Regions from separate parts of the Homo sapiens genome. Here region 1 is linked to region 2. Evidence: fine-mapped expression QTL. Tissue or cell type: adrenal gland. Region 2 holds a variant in brackets; the other region holds the start of a gene. All regions are shown on one strand. Distances are from middle to middle.

Region 1 (8,186 bases), 180 kb after region 2:
TCTTTGAGCATTATTTCCCATCTTTAGCTTGGCCAAAAATAATCTGAACAAACCAGAAATACAAATAAATGCAAGCCAAATAGGCAAGAATCTTTTTTTTTTTTTTTTCTTTTGATAGAGTTTCACTCTGTTGCTCTGGCTGGAGTGCAGTGGCGCCACCTTAGCTCACTGCAACCTCCGCCTCCGGGCTTCAAGCAATTCTCATGCCTCAGCCTCCCAAGTAGCTGGGATTAGAGGCATGCGCCACCAGGCCTGGCTAATTTTTTTGTGCTTTTAGTAGAGACAGGGTTTCACCATGTTGGCTAGGCTGGTCTTGAACTCCTGATTTCAGGTGATTCACCCGCCTCAGCCTTCCAAAGTGCTGGGATTACAGGCGTGAGCCACTGCGCCTGGCCCAAATCTATTCTATTTTTAAAATTATAACATTTAAGATGTTAAACTTCAGTTACTCCCCTATACTACTGGTAAGAGAATTCCATGTTTACCAAATATGTAACTGAAATATCGTTCTGTTGATTCCTCATTTTTATTTGTATATTTACCAGAGAGAAAGCTAAAACTCACCCAAATTCAAAAAACCCTAAAGTAATATACTATGCTATCAATCTTTAAGGGAGACTTACTTTTCAACTTCATCTGGTTTTTCAAAAAACAAATTTTCCAAAGAAAACAGGCAATCATTTGATTTCAGCATTGTTGAAAACTGGACTTTGTCATAAATCTACAAAATATGGAAAAAGTAGTTTATATTTTATTTATAAAGATGTAAAAAAATATTTCTGTATAATCACTAATTTTCCACAGTCTCCTGTAAAATATAACCACAGACTATCCTTCCAGCTTCATCGTCTGCAACTTCCTTCAAAGCACCTCAATATTCACATACATTATTCTCTGTTTTCCATTCATTCATGGATTCACACTTGCTCCCTTCTCTTCATAGTGCTCCAATGCTTGGAATGTGTTTTCTGCCATTCTCCAACTGGCAAATTCCTAACCATCCTTCAAGTTATAGGTCAAATGTCATTTCTTCTTCAAAGGCTTTTCTGAATTTGTCTTCTTCCTCAAGGCAGAATTAATCAGTCTTCTTGGGCTCTTAATACTTTGTTCACACCATTATTTTCAAGTTAGGACAGCACATTTTATTGTGAATGTGTGCACCTCTAACAATATACTATGTACATATGCAGGGATTTGCTTCAAAATAAAGGGGAGAGATGAAGGAGTATTGAAATAATATTGACAATGAGTTGATCAAAGCTAAAGCTATGTAATAGGTACATGGGGTTCATTATAATATTTTTTCATAGGTTTGAACTTTTTCAAAATAAAAAAATTACAAGTTTAACATACATATGCATATTTATTTATATGAGTTAATGCATATACTACACACGTTTACATTCTTTTTTAAAAGATAATTTTTGCACTCAGAGATATTATCTAAACATAAAGGATAAAAACATTCAGCATTGGCCACCTTTGAACATAACAAAAATCTGGGGCTGAACAAAGATGCAAATGTGATTAAAAAAAAAAACTAGTCTCTAGATACATACATTGCTCCCATTAGAATTATTTTTCCCTGCATATCCTATTTTTTTCTAAATTCTTAAACATCATAGAACATTCTATATGACAAACCATAAAATCAGACGAACAAACTGTAAAACATAAATCACATTTCTGTTTCTTCTGTTTTAGTTAATACATTGTAAATTTGTCCTCAAGATAGAAACTACAATCAAAGAAATTCTATTAATGCCATCTAGTGGAGAAATACGCATTACCAAGTCAGATTATGTCTCTCCAATTTTGAATCCTCCTTGATGTGGGGATGAGATACAAGTGGGAGTGATATGGGGAAGGGAGAATGTTTCCACATACAACACTTGACAAATGCTACTGTATGAGAACTAAACCTGTATATATACTTCAGGGCTGTTCTTACTGATATAGAATATTGTGGGGTTTTTCACTGTTTTCGTTATTGGGTTCTTCCCCCTTCCATCTGTTTAATATAATTGCCCTCTTCATTTTTCTCTATCTATTAATCAGTTACCAACAAAAACAAGTAGTAAAAATGAAACAAACTAGTGTGGTTCTATAAATGTCTAAAACAATTTGACTATACGAAAAATAGAAGCCTAGGATAATAGGGCAGGAGGTAGAGGGAGTCATTCAGAAATATGCGAAGTCTTTAACAGCTTTAAGTAAACAATTTCAGAACTTGAAAACAATTATCTGAAAAAGTATAAATGAAAATGTTAATCATGTTTTTATATTGCCCAAAAAGTAACAAATAAAATGTTCCCTTTCTAGTTTTAGGAAAACTATGTTCAAACAAAAGAAACTTTTCCTAAAATAAACCTCACCAGACCAGTTTCATATGGCTTTGCTACCTCAGAATTTAAGTCAAAAATCTTAAGGCTAACATTTATACACTTGAATACTTTCTTCCTAAAGCAACTACAAATAGACAACAAAACTACAAATTTAAAACATTTGGGAAGAAAAGCGTTGCATAAACTGACAAAAACCTCCTATACAAACAGCAAATATTTTCAAAAGAATTTTTGATTTCTAGTTCTAGCATACAAGAATATAACTTGTTTGGGTTCAGAATAAAAATATCATGTACATATTTTAGTTCTTATATACTCCTGTGAAAAAACACCCCTTATCTAAAACTGCATCCTCTCATTCCGCATTATTTTTCTTCATAGCATGAACTGATAACTAACATTATAGTATATGCTTAGTTGTTTATTATGTTTCTCCCTTTAGAGCAAGCAGGGACTTTTTGCTCATTAATGTGTTCCAATAACCCAGAATAGTGCCTGGCACACAGTAAATGGTCCATAAGAATGCATTGTGGAATAAATGCATTAGCAAGAACCAGTTTATAAAAATAGTGTCAAATAAAAATAATTTTCTGTTAATTTAGAAACTTAAAATTTGAGCCCCAATCTTCAACGTTCAGTTAAAAAATGTGAAATTTTTTTCTAGTTCAGGATTTATGTAAATAAAATCATGAAGGTTCTAAAAGATGATGAATTTGGCACTTTCATTATGTAAATCTTTTTTTAAAAAAGAAACACAGGTCCTAAAAGGGACCTTGCTACAGTTCAGTATGAGTTTGTGATGTGAGGGGATGCTATTTTAAATTAATTAAAGTTCTAGGTTTAGATTCAGATTTTTTAAGTTCCTATTATTTATTATTAAAGTTTTAGTTTCAGCACGTGGCACAAAATTAGATTGCCAAACACAATAAACAATATCATCCCAGGTAGTTTTAAGTGTCTGCTCTGCTATAATCACTGTTAAAATACTTAAGCTATTTTTGAGTCTACATAATTTGCGGTGCCGACCTTCTCTAGTTATATTAATGACAATCTCTAGTTAAATATTAATACAACTAGATACAATTAATCTTTAGTTATATTAATGACAATTCACCATTTTGTCTTCTGTAATCTTTACTTATTGTATAAAATTATTGTATACAATTATTGTATAAACTTATTGTATAAAATTGCAGGCCTATTACTTCTTACAATTTTTACTCAGAAACATACTCCTTATTTTAAAAGTACAGAAACTCAGATAAAAATTATTGATTTGCTAGAAATTTTTGTGAGTTAAGGAAGAAGTAGGGACCAACATTTACGGGAATAACCGACCGTCACAAATAACTGCAGAGAATCTGACAAAGAAGGAAAAATCAACGGGAACAAATTACTCCGAGGCTCGGCCTGGGAAAGGACCATACAATTGTCGGAGCCCCAGATCTCACCCCCTCTCCCCAGGCACCAACAGGGCTGGCTGGAAGGGTCCGGCTGGGGACCGAATCAGCACCTAAAGCAAAATAACAGCTCTGTGGATTTCCTAAGGAGAATATCCTAAATCCAAGGCAGAGGCCTTAGGGCCCCGAGAGTGGCACAAGAACGGGGCGCTGGGGCGCGTCACTCCACCCCCCGGGTCCCGTTTCCTCCCACCGCTGTGAAACCCGCGGCTCAGACAGATGGGTACGTCCCCCCCAGCGCTCGCTCAGGGGGCGCCACACACCGGAACACAAGACACAGGAACCGAACACCAATCAGCCGACTTTAGGGGCGGGCCGGACGCCCAGCCGGTCCCACCTCGCGGGGAGCTGGGCCCGCCCTGCGCCCGAGCGCGCCGCAGGCCTCACCGCTTTCTGACTGGAAATGCGGCTGAGGCGCTGGCGCGGGCCGGCGGCCTGGAGACGCCTGGTGACCAACAACTCGCCGCGCCCGTCCGCTGCCTGCCCGGCAGACGGCTCTAGAGATCGACCGCTGCCCGGACGGCTCGGCTGGGTCCCCACTTCCCCGCGGGCGTCGGGCCCCCGTCCCCACCTTCCCCGCGGGCGTCCGGGCCCCTCTCCTCACCTCCCTGCGGACAGCTCCTAGGCCAGTCGAGCGCCGATTTATCAGCCCCTCTGAGGACCGCCAAGCCTGGCTAAGCCGAGCTCCAAGCAATGGATCGCCCAAGCCCCCAACCTCTCCCTTCCTACCTTTTTTTCTCCGAAAGTTTATAACTGGTTTTGAATATATCTCTTGCAGTTTACTGTGTCTATTCTCTTTAAATACAGCTCCTAATCCTGGGTTCTAAGGGTCTACTAAATGGTACCCTTTCCCTAAGCTAACCTGCTTCTCTACCCCCACAACCACCACTCCACAAACATACCCCAACCTGCCTTTCTCATCAAAGTTAGCCAGGCCTCAGCTCTGGGACTTCCGGTCTCTTCGTACCTAAAAAGTGTTTTACCTATATTATTTATAAAATATCACAGTGGCACTCATGAGGTCGGTATTACTGGGGAACTTGATTCAGAAATAAAGTTAAATTTCAGAAATAAATATTCTAAAACACAATGATATTTAAATGTGTTTAGCCAACATGAATTTATAAAAACAGGGCAATAATGTGTTCTTAGGCTGTAAACATGAACAAACTATAAATTATCCTTTTAAGTTTCTTTAGAATTGTCCTCTGAAGATTTGGCAGGGAATGTTTTGTAGATGATAAAATAGCAACGAATCAATGATGCTTTTCTTACAGAGACATTTATCTTTCCTTTGGAAACCCCCACCTGTGACATCTAGGGCCAACCTACTGCTGTCTGACTGCCCTATTCCTGTTCTCTTTTTTCTTGCAGTTCTACTGTTCATTAGCTATATGACCTTGGAAAAGACCCAACCTTTAAGTCTTAATTCTGCATCCTCAGTGATACTCATAAGCTCTAACTCCTAGATACTGCTGCAAGGGTTAAATAAAATAATATTTGCAGTAGTCCTACCACACAGTAAATGCTCATGAATATTAATTTCTTTCACCTTCTCTGAAATGTAAAATTATTCCAGTAATTGGGTGAGCCAGTTATTTGGATACTGATAAAATAACAAGTCTTTGTCTCTTGGAGAAAATAACATTTTGACTGCATAAACTATTCTTAATAGAAAGGTTGAATTATCATTCCTCTCAAAAATACTGGAGAGGAAAGTTACTTTCCATAGACTGCATAGAGGAAAATAACGAAACAGTGCATTTGTTATAGTGAACCCCTCAATGTGTTGAAATTCATACATTGAATTCTAACCCCCGATGTGATGATATTTGAACGTGGGACTTTTGTGAGGTAATTAACTCAAAAGGGTAGAGCCTTCATGAGTAGGATTGTGCCCTTTTAAGAGGCCAGAGAGTTAGCTCGCTCTTTTCCTACCATGTGAGGATACAGGAGGACGGTATCTGCAAGCCAGGAAGGAGGCCCTCGCCAAATACCGGATCTGCCTGCACTGTGATCTTGGACTTCTCAGGCACCAAAATTGTGACAAATGTTTGTTGTTTAAGCCACCCAGCCTATGGTAATTTGTTATAGCAGCTTGAACTAAGATAGGGTTTGAGTGATAGAATTGTAGAATTCAGCAACAGGCAGGTACAGGGGAGTCTTACTGTCAAAGCACACAGTAGCAAATGGCCACCATGTTCATAAACAAAAACATTCATTCATTCACTCACTCATTTATTCAAGAATGCATGTGGAATCTATAGAGCCTTACTTTCTCTTAAAATAATGTAATAAAAATGTCAAAGCTGCAGTTTTTAAAAGGAAGCCTCAGGACAGTGATAAAGTTACTAAAAATCCCATTTTGGGGGGAGGGATTACCATGGTTTTTAGTAATGTTGCCACATTTCTCAAGAAAACATTTTAATCCTAAAGATTTAATTTTACAACCAGTGCAACAATGTCATAAGCAATCCTCCAAATTGAATAACATAACTAACATTTGAAATATAGTCTTCCCGGTCAACTTCTGGCATGACTGCATAAAGAGCTTTGCTACCTCACTTCTCAGTGAAACTGGTGAAAATTCTAGAAAAATGACTCAGACCCTCTGGAAATGATCCTAAGGGCAAACAGCAAAAGAAGAAACATCTTTTCAAGAAAGAGATACAAAAATTTGGTAAGAAAGGCAAGGCTCTGTGGTATTTTATCCAAGACTCCCAAGTTCCAGCTTAGCAAGACAGGCTCCATTCTAGACAGCTGCAGCCAAGAATACAGAGCTCTCTCTGCACCCAGCTCCCACTAGAAGGCGCGCTTTCTTTCTTTCATTGTGGTAAAACATGCGTAATATTTATAATTTTAACCATATATAAGTGTATAATTCAGGGACATTAAATACACTCATAGTGTTGTATAACCATCACTCTTATCCATACCCAAAACTTTTTCATTATCCCCAACAAGAAATTTGTGCCCATTCAGGGAGGGGAACTTCACACACTGGGGCCCGTTGGGGGGTGAGGGGCTGGGGGAAGGATAGCATTGGGAGAAATACTTAATGTAAATGACGAGTTGATGGGTGCAGCAAACCGACATGGCACATGTATATCTATGTAACAAACCTGCACGTTGTGCACATGTACCCCAAAACTTAAAGTATAAGAAAAAAAAAAAGAAATTTCTGCCCATTAAACAGGAACTCCTTCTTTTCCCCTTTCCCTAATTCCTGGTAACCTCTATTCTACTTTCTATTTCTATGAGTTTACCTATCCTAAGTACTTCATATAAGTGGGATCATACAATATTTGTTCTTCTATTTCTGGATTATTCACTTAGCATAATGTTTTCAATGTTCATCCATGTTGTAGCATGGATCAGAATTTTACTCCTTTTTAAGGCTCAATAATATTCTATTGTATTTATATACCACATTTTGTTTATCCATTTGTAATCCTGGCTAAGGGACATTTGAGTTGTTTCCACATTTCCACCTTTTGGCTATTGTGAATAATGCTTCTATGAACATTCGTGTGTAAATATCTCCGTTCAAGTCCCTGCTTTCAATTCCTTTGGATATGTACCTAGGAGTGGAATTGCTGGGACATATGGTAATGCTATTACAGCCAATGCCATGAGTTCTAGCTGATGTATCCAACATAACCAAAATTTTCTTCACTTTGTAACATCCACATCTTTTACACCCTGATTAGTCAGTAGAAATTGATATTGAAAAATTAGTCTCAGGCTGGGCAACACAGCGAGACTTCATCTCTACCAAAATTTTAAAAACTAACCAGGTGTGGTGGTGTGTGCCTGTAGTCCTAGCTGCTTGGCAGGCTGAGGCAGGAGAATGGCTTGAACCAAGGAATTCCAGGCTGCAGTGAGCTGTGATCCCACTACTGCACTCCAACCTGGGCAATAGAGCAAGATCCTGTATCTAAAAAAGCAAGAAAGAAAAAAGAAAAATTAGTGTTGATGGCTCTAGAGAAGCAGGAACCAAGAAATGTTGAGGTTTCAAGACTATTTTTCTGCAGATGACAGCCAGAAATGTGTTGTGTTTTTTATTGTCAGATTTGGACAAGAAACAGTGAAGAGATCATTTGGGAAGAATCTGAGAATTACAAAATTAATTTCTGAGAAAAAAACAGAAAAAAAGGAAATAAAGGTAGTTTGATATGATGGGATTCTCAGGAGGAAAGAAAAGTTTAGGGAGTTAGGGCCAATTCAGTAGATACTTAAATAACAAAAGGAAGACTGAATTAAGCACAAACCAAAAAAAAAAAATCTTTCTGTTCTTTCTTTCTTTTTCTTTGTTTCTCTTTTCTTTCTTTCTTTCTCTTTTCTCTCTTCCTCCCTTCCTCCCCTTCCTTCCTTCCCTCCC
Region 2 (8,186 bases):
ATTAGAAATGTATCCTGCATGATACGCTGTACAGCAAATTCTACTGTAAAGGGTACAGTTACACAACAGACTTTAAATTGTCTTGTGAAAGTTATGCTAAACAATAGAATTAGCTAAACAGAAAAGTACCTGTGTAGCTGCTGGCACTTGTGGCCTATTCAGAAATACATCAAATGAAGATTATAGAAATTCAGTGGTAAGGGATAGACAAAGAAATTACTTAGTTAAGTGAGTAAACTTTATCTAGCTCATTCTTTGATCAATTTGATTTTAGGAGGTTCAATTTATGGGGACCTTGGGTAAGGAGCATATCCCAAACTCTTGGTATTATCCTCCCAATAGTCATAATAATAGTCTTCCTGGTGCACTGTATTCTCTCAAAGGTTTTAAATGCTTGCATGCAGCCATCTCTAGAATGTCATATGGTCTCTCTTCAACTGGAATAACAGGAGCTGAAAGAAATGTGCAACCATGAGGACACCTATAAATGACGTGCTGAGACCGGAAACTCAAAATGTTGGTAACTGAGAGTGGTGCTAAGGCCCTAAGTTTTGATTACACTCTCACCTAAGTGAGAGCATGACAAAAAAGGGGAAATTTTTTTAAACAAAATTATGGGAGTCTATTGTTTTGGGCTAAGCTCATGCACTAGGCCCCAACAAACCAAGCCAAACCAAAATGGAGTTGCTCATGCTAAGACGTTAAAGAAACACATAGATTCTAGAACAGATGAAGCTTTGTTTTTTCTCCTGCAAATCTCTATAACAAACATTTCTGACAGCATAGGTATCCACTCCGTGAAGTTCCCATTAAATTTTTTAACCAAATTCATTTCTTCTCACCTAGAGACCATCAAGCTTCAGATGATCATGCAACAAAGGTTCCAGCCAGTTCAAGGTGAAGACACCACCCCTGACTGTCAGGGAGCACCTACCCTGCCTCCACCAGACTGAGCAAGGCAAGAGATCCATGATCCACAATACTTAGGGACTATGCCCCAAGCCAGCATGAAGCAGTTACAGAAAAAAAGACCGTTGGTCCCTCTGCCTCCCATAAATATTTACAGGGATCATATCTCTCAGGGGGAAGATGAGGCAAGAAAAATGGGGTCTGGAGGCCGGGAACATAAGGCCGATTCACACTTTAGCTATGACAGGAAATATCCTCTCCATAGGACGTAGGCCAAGTAAATGACTTTATAACTTTACTTCATCCTCTCCATTTACATAAGCCATACCCCAAGTAACCAATGGAATCCTCTAGGGGGTATTTACATCCCCCAAATCTCTGTAATGGGGTCTTTGAGCCCCTATGCTCAGGCCTGCTCCCACACTGTGGAGTATACTTTCATTTTCAATAAATCCTTTCATTCCCACCTTGCTTTGTTTGTGCATTTTGTCCAATTCTTTGTTCAAGACACCAAGAAACTGGACACCCTCCATTGTTAATAGATTGAGTGGACGTTACCATCCAAAATCACTGTTTGCTTCTGTTTCCTCTGCAAAATGTTGATTAATGAGAGAAAAGGATTTGTGTGACTAGTCTTGGTTGTAGGGACTCTGGTATAATTTTTGCTATGATAATTGGACTGAGTTGCTATTGGATTGAGTACACCACTGGAAAGTCTAATCATTGGTGGCCAAAAGATGGATCCTTTAAATTAGAATGACTCCTAAATTTTAAAAAGATATCTCTCATTCCAAGCAATTGCCTTATTTGTATTTATGGGAGATCAAAAAATGTTTTTTTTTAAAGATAAATAATAGTGTTGTGGCCAGCCTCAGAAATTCGGCAAAATTGAAGAGCCAGAATCTGACCTAAAACAAAGCTAAAGCCCTTCATAATTTCAAACAGCCTGCTTTGGAGCTGTTCCACCGTGTAGTCTGGTAGTTAAAATTCTGTGCTTTCACTGCCATGGCCTGGTTCAATTCCCAGTCAGGAAATCAGTTCCTTTGGTTTGATATTTATGTGACTTTTGACCTTTTGGAACACCCATTTGTTATCGATCCCTTCGCCTTCTATGAACAACTTTTGATTTCCTGTCTTCTTCCATCTGTGGGGTCAAACAGAGGTTTTGGGCCTTGTGTATCAATGGTCAACTGAGAAGCTGAGACCCTGAAAGATATGGCCAGATCAATGTGGGCTGTCCCCCTTTTGTGGCTAGCAAAACCTTCCTTTCTTTGAACCATTTCTGGGGTGGTTCTGGATTTTATAAAGACTGCTTTGCACCTCTTTGGAGATGCCTCATGTGTCCTTGGTGAAGGTATAACCTTATTTAAGGCTTATTGGTTTAGTGAGTCACTTGGGAGGGTACCTTCGGTTAAAAAAAAAAAAAAGTTCAAAACCCAGGAATTTCAGCTGTTTATCCTGGCTAAAATCTGATAATAAGATATTTAAAAGGATTTTTAAAAAGCTATTCTATGGTCAGAGGTCAGCTTAGTTAAAAGCTGATATTCAAGATCCTCCTTCCTCTTTGCTGTCTTCAGTGCTACATGAAGAAATCTAGGCCTGGCATGGTGGCTCACACCTGTAATCCCAGCACTTTGGGAGGCTGAGGCGGGTGGATCACTTGAGGTCAGAAGTTCAAGACCAGCCTGACCAACATGATGAAACCCCATCTCTACTAAAAATACAAAAATTAGCTGGGCATGGTGGCGTGCACTTGTAATCCCGGCTACTCGAAAGGCTGAGGCAGGAGAATCACTTGAACTCAGGAGGCAGAGGTTGCAGTGAGCTGAGATTGAGCCATTGCACTCCAGCCTGAGCAACAAGAGCAAAACTCCATCTAAAAAAAAAAAAAGAAAAGAAAACAAATCTGAGCGAACCTCTAATGACTCAGACCCCTTAAGGGACACAGAAAGAGTCACCACTCATCCCCTTTTTAAGGTATTCTGCCTTCCTGTGGAATCTGAAGAGTCATGGACACGTTCCTCTCAAGTCTAAACTCTACTGTCTTTTACATCAATTACCCGATCTCTTTCATTTTTAGGGGTACCAGGGATTACTGGTGAGACTATGAGACAATACGCTTTGGTATGTATGATGACTGGTGGATCACTGGTGAGAGCTACAGTCTGGGAGGTGGCTGACTATGGATGTGAAATCGTCTTTGCAAAAATCATAATTGAGGAAATTATTTCATGAAAGAGATCAGACCTGACTGACCCCATCTTCCTTCTAACCTCTAAACTGCCTTTGTTCATTCCTGGGTGTAGGCCGAACTAGCCTTGCGAAGGAATTTAGTTTATAGTTTAAACTCTGAAACAAAATGGATTAATAGCTCTTTCCCAAAAAAACCCTTCTTGCCTGGGGACCAGTCTGTCTTTGTAAGACTAACAAATTTGCTACAAAATTAGATATCACAGTTTAGGGGCCATGCAGCCTCTGGCTGCAAGAGTCTGAACCTCCCCAAATTGCTCCTGGGAATAACATCACTGTTGTAAAACCTAAGATCAGTGCTTGAGATATTTTGCAGGCCCTACATTCTGATGCAGCAGATGACATCATCCAGACTGATTATCTGGCTCAACCAATTTTGTGATCCCACCCGGGAATGGAAGTCATCAAGGACTCACTTCTACCCCCCGTGATTTTATCTTCAACCGACCAATCAGCACTCCCCACTTTCTAAGCTCATACCCTCCAAATTACCCTTAAAAACTCTGATCTCCGAATGTTCCAGGGGACTGATTTGAGTAATAATAAGACTCCGGTCACCCCGCACACCCGGCTCTGTGTCAATTACTCTTTCACCATTACAATTCCCCAGACTTAATAAACTGGTTCTTTCTAGGCAGCCAGCCCAATGTGAACCCATTAGGCAGTTACAGTTGCAATGAATGGTAGTTACCACAAGGGAATACTCATTTCCTTGTGCATTTATTATTTAGTCTTTTTTAAATTTTAATTTTAAATTCCGGGATATATGTGCAGGATGTGCAGGTTTGTTACAAAGGTAAATGTGTGCCATAGTGGTTATGTAACCGCCCAAGTGGTTCACCTTGCCCTCTGCCTAGACTGAACCAATTTACCAAGACAGGGGAATTGCAATGGAGAAAGAGTAATTCACGCAGAGCTCGCTGAGCGGGAGACTGGAGTATTTTTTTGGCTTGGTTTGATTTTTGTTTTTTGTTTTTGTTTTTTTGAGACGGAGTTTCACTCTTGTAGCCCAGGCTGGAGTGCAATGGGGCGATCTCGGCTCACTGCAACCTC[C/T]GCCTCCCGGGTTCAAGCAATTCTCCTGCCTCAGCCTCCCAAGAGTAGCTGGGATTACAGGCGTGCACCACCACTCCTGGCTAACATTTTTTATATTTTTAGTAGAGATGAGGTTTCATCATGTTGGCCAGGCTGGTCTCGAACTTCTGATCTCAGGTGATTCACCCTTCTTGGCCCCCCAAAATGCTGGGATTACAGACGTGAGCCACGCGCCTGGCCCCACAGTTTTATTATTAATCAAATCACTCTACCTGAGCATTCAGGGATCAGAGATTTGGTGGGTAGGGGCTTGGGAAGTGGGGAGTGCTGATTGGTCAGGTTGGAGATGGAATCATAAGGGTTCCAAGTGAGTTTTTCTTGCTGTCTTCTGTTCCTGGGTGAGATGGCATAACTGGTTGAGCCAGATCACCAGTCTGTGTGGTATCAGCTGATCCATCAAGTACAGGGTCTGTAAAATATCTCAAGCACTGAGTTTAGGTTTTGCAATAGTGATGTTATCCCCAGGAGCAATTTGGGGAGGTTCAGACTCTTGGAGCCAGAGGCTGCACGACCCCTAAACTGTAATTTCTAATCTTGTAGCTAATTTGCTAGTTCTGCAAAGGCAGACTGGTTTCTAGGCAAGAAGGGGTGTTTTTCAGGAAAGAGCTGTTATTAATTTTGTTTCAGAGTCAAACCATGAGCTGAATTCCTTCTCAAAGTTAGTTTGGCCTATGCCAAGGAATGAACAAGGACAGCTTAAAGGTTAGAAGCAAGATGGAGTTAGTTAGGTCTGATTTCTTTCACTGTCATGATTTCCTCAGTTATACTTTTGCAAAGGCGGTTTTAGTTTGCTGCACCCATCAAGCAATCACCTACATATTAAGCCCCGTGTGCATTAGGTATTTATCCTGATGCTCTCCCTCCCTTCACCCACTCCCAACAGACCACAGTGTGTCCATGTGCTCTCATTGTTCAGCCCCAATTATCAACGAGAACATGCGGTGTTTGGTTTTCTGTTCGTGTGTTAATTTGCTGAGGATAATGGCTTCCAGCTCCATCCATGTCCCTGCAAGGGACATTATCTCATTCCCTTTTATGGTGGCATAGTATTTCCTGGTGTATATGTACCACATTACCACATTATCTTTATCCAGTCTGTCACTGATAGGTCTCTGGGTTGATTCCATGTCTTTGCTGTTGTGAATAGTGATGCAATGAACATATGTGTGCAGGTATCTTTATAATAGAATGATTTATATTCCTTTGGGTATATACCCAGTAATGGGGTTGCTGAGTCAAATGGTATTTCTGCCTCTAGGTCTTTGAGGAATCACCACAGTCTTCCACAATGGTTGAACTAATTTACATTCCCACCAACAGTGTAAAAGCGTTCCTATTTCTCCACAACCTCACCAGCATCTGTTGCTTCTTGATTTTTTAATAACCACCATTCTGACTGGCATGAGATAGTATCTCATTGTGGTTTTGATTTGTATTTCTCTAATGATCAGTGATGTTGAGCTTTTTTTATGTTTGTTGGCCACATGTATGTCTTCTTTTGAGAAGTGTCTGTTCATGTCCTTTGCCCACTTTTTAATCAGGTTTTTATTTTTCTTGTAAATTTGTTTCAGTTCCTGGTAGATTCTGGATATTAGATCTTTGTCAGATGGATAGATTGCAAAAATTTTCTCCCATTCTCTAGGTTGTCTGTTCACTCTGATGATAGTATCTTTTGCTGTGCAGAGTTCTTTAGTTTAATTCAATTCCATTTGTCAATTTTTGCTTTTGTTACAATTGCTTTTGATGTTTTCATCATGAAATCTTTGCCAGTGCCTATGTCCTAAATGGTATTGCCTAGATGGCCATACTGCCCAAAATAATGTATAGATTCAATGCTTTTTTTTTGTTTTTTTTTTTTTGAGACGGAATTTCACTGTTGTTGCCCAGGCTGGAGTGTAATGGTGCAATCTTGGCTCACTGCAATCTCTGCCTCCCAGGTTCAAGCAATTCTCCTGCCTCAGCCTCCCGAGTAGCTGGAATTACAGGCATGTGCCACCATGCCCAGCTAATTTTGTATTTTTAGTAGAGACAGGGTTTCACCATGTTGGTCAGGCTGGTTTTGAACTCCCGACCTCAGGTGATCCGCCCACCTCAGCCTCCCAAAGTGCTGGGATTACAGGTGTGAGCCACTATGTCTGCCCTTATAGATTCAATGCTATTTCCATTAAACAACTATTGACATTGTTCGCAGATTTAGAAAAAACTAATTTAAAATTCATATGGAACCAAAAAAGAGACCATATAGCCAAGACAATTCTAAGCAAAAAGAACAAAGCTGGAGGTATAATGCTGCCTGACTTCAAACTATACTACAAGTCTACAATAACCAAAACACCGCATGGTACTGGTACAAAAACAGACACACAGACCAGTGGAACAGAATAGAGATCTCAGAAATAAGACCACACCTCTGCAACCATCTGATCCTTATCAAACCTGACAAAAACAAGCAATGGGGAAAGGATTCCCTATTTAATAAATGGTGATGGGAAAACTGGTTAGCCATATGCAGAAAATGGAAACCAGACCCCTTCCTTACACCTTATATAAAAATTAACTCAAGATGGATTAAAGACTTCAATGTAAAACTGAAACCTATAAAAATCCTTGGAGCCCAGGTGCAATGGCTCACACTTGTAATCCCAGCACTTTGGGAGGCTGAGGCAGGTGGATCATTCGAGGTCAGGAGTTCAAGACCAGTCTGACCAACATGGTGAAACCCTGTCTCTACTAAAAATACAAAAAAATTAGCCAGGCATGGTGGTGCATGCCTGTAGTCCCAGCTACTCAGTAGGCTGAGGCAGGAAAATCAGTTGAACCTCGGAGGCAGAGGTTGTAGTGAGCTGAGATCACGCAGTGCACTCCAGCCTGGGTGACAGAGCAAGACTCCATCTCAAAAAAAAAAAAAAAAAAAAAAAGTCCTTGTGCATTTAAATAAAAGTGCAGGTATGAACTCACCACTGAGGGATAAAACTCTTATGGGGGATGGGCTGTTCACAGAGTGGGCTGATTGACATTGGGTTACCTGCCAGCCAGGAGAATGTCTTTGTAGTGAGGTACACTGTGGAAGCCTGTGTCATGGCCTGGTGTCATGGTGTTTCCTTCTTTTTTGGGGAGCCAGGATTCAATATAAAAGGATCCTTGATTTTTAAAGATTTAGATGTGTTGCCCTCCAATTGTGCCTGCTTTTTACATATTAAAATATTTGGCCCTGGAAACTGCAAATATTTTCTTTGCCCTATCATTAAAGGGCTCCACCTGAAGTAGTAATGTGTTTTGTTTTCCACAAACTTTTTTTCGTTTGAGCTATTTATAGCTTATAGCAATTTGGGCAAAGTACACTTTTTTTTTTTTTTAAGACAGGGTCTCACACTGTCACTCAGGCTAGAGTGCAGTGGTGCGATCTCAGCTCACTGCAATCTCCACCTCCTGGCTCCTGGGTTCAAGTGATTCTCATGCCTCACCCTCCGTAGTAGCTGGGATTACATGTGTGTGCCACCACACCCAGCTAATTTTATATTTTTAGTAGAGATGGGGTTTTGCCATGTTGGCCAGGCTAATTTCAAACTCCTGGCTTCAAGTGATCCATCTGCTTCAGCCTACCAAAGTGCTGGGTTTATGGGCATGAGCCACAATGCCCAGCAAAGTATACTTTTGTGAACAAAAATGGAAATATTTGCCTTTCTCTCTACCTGATTCCTCCAGAATTCAGAAACTATTTGCGAGTATTCTTATTTCATAACAATATGGGAATTTACATAAGTTCAATAAAAATCTGTTTTCTTTTGTAACAGGACATATTGGAGACACTGGTAATTTTCCCAAGGCTTTGACTGGAATGACATCTTTTCAGATATGACCAGACGGGTTTGAGGAATTAAAGTTGACTTAAAGAACTGGCCTGATACCTTGTCTACATGGTTCTCTTACAAGGT

The links. PIP is the estimated chance that this variant, and not a neighbour inherited with it, causes the effect.
Region 1: it holds the start of HFM1, and the variant in region 2 is fine-mapped to the expression of HFM1 in adrenal gland (GTEx, PIP above 0.99). The same link has a PIP of 0.9 or more in lung, thyroid and visceral fat.

The regions. Positions count from the first base shown.
Region 1 is chr1:91,400,389-91,408,574 of GRCh38, forward strand. It overlaps HFM1 (helicase for meiosis 1), which reads right to left and starts at 4,449. Exons shown (of 39, transcript NM_001017975.6): 1 at 4,410-4,449; 2 at 624-721. The coding sequence starts at 694. RefSeq lists a silencer at 4,044-4,423.
Region 2 is chr1:91,223,161-91,231,346 of GRCh38, forward strand. No RefSeq gene overlaps it. Among named protein-coding and RNA genes, the nearest start is that of HFM1, 180 kb to the right of the region's middle. The variant C/T (reference allele first, on the strand shown) is at 4,213.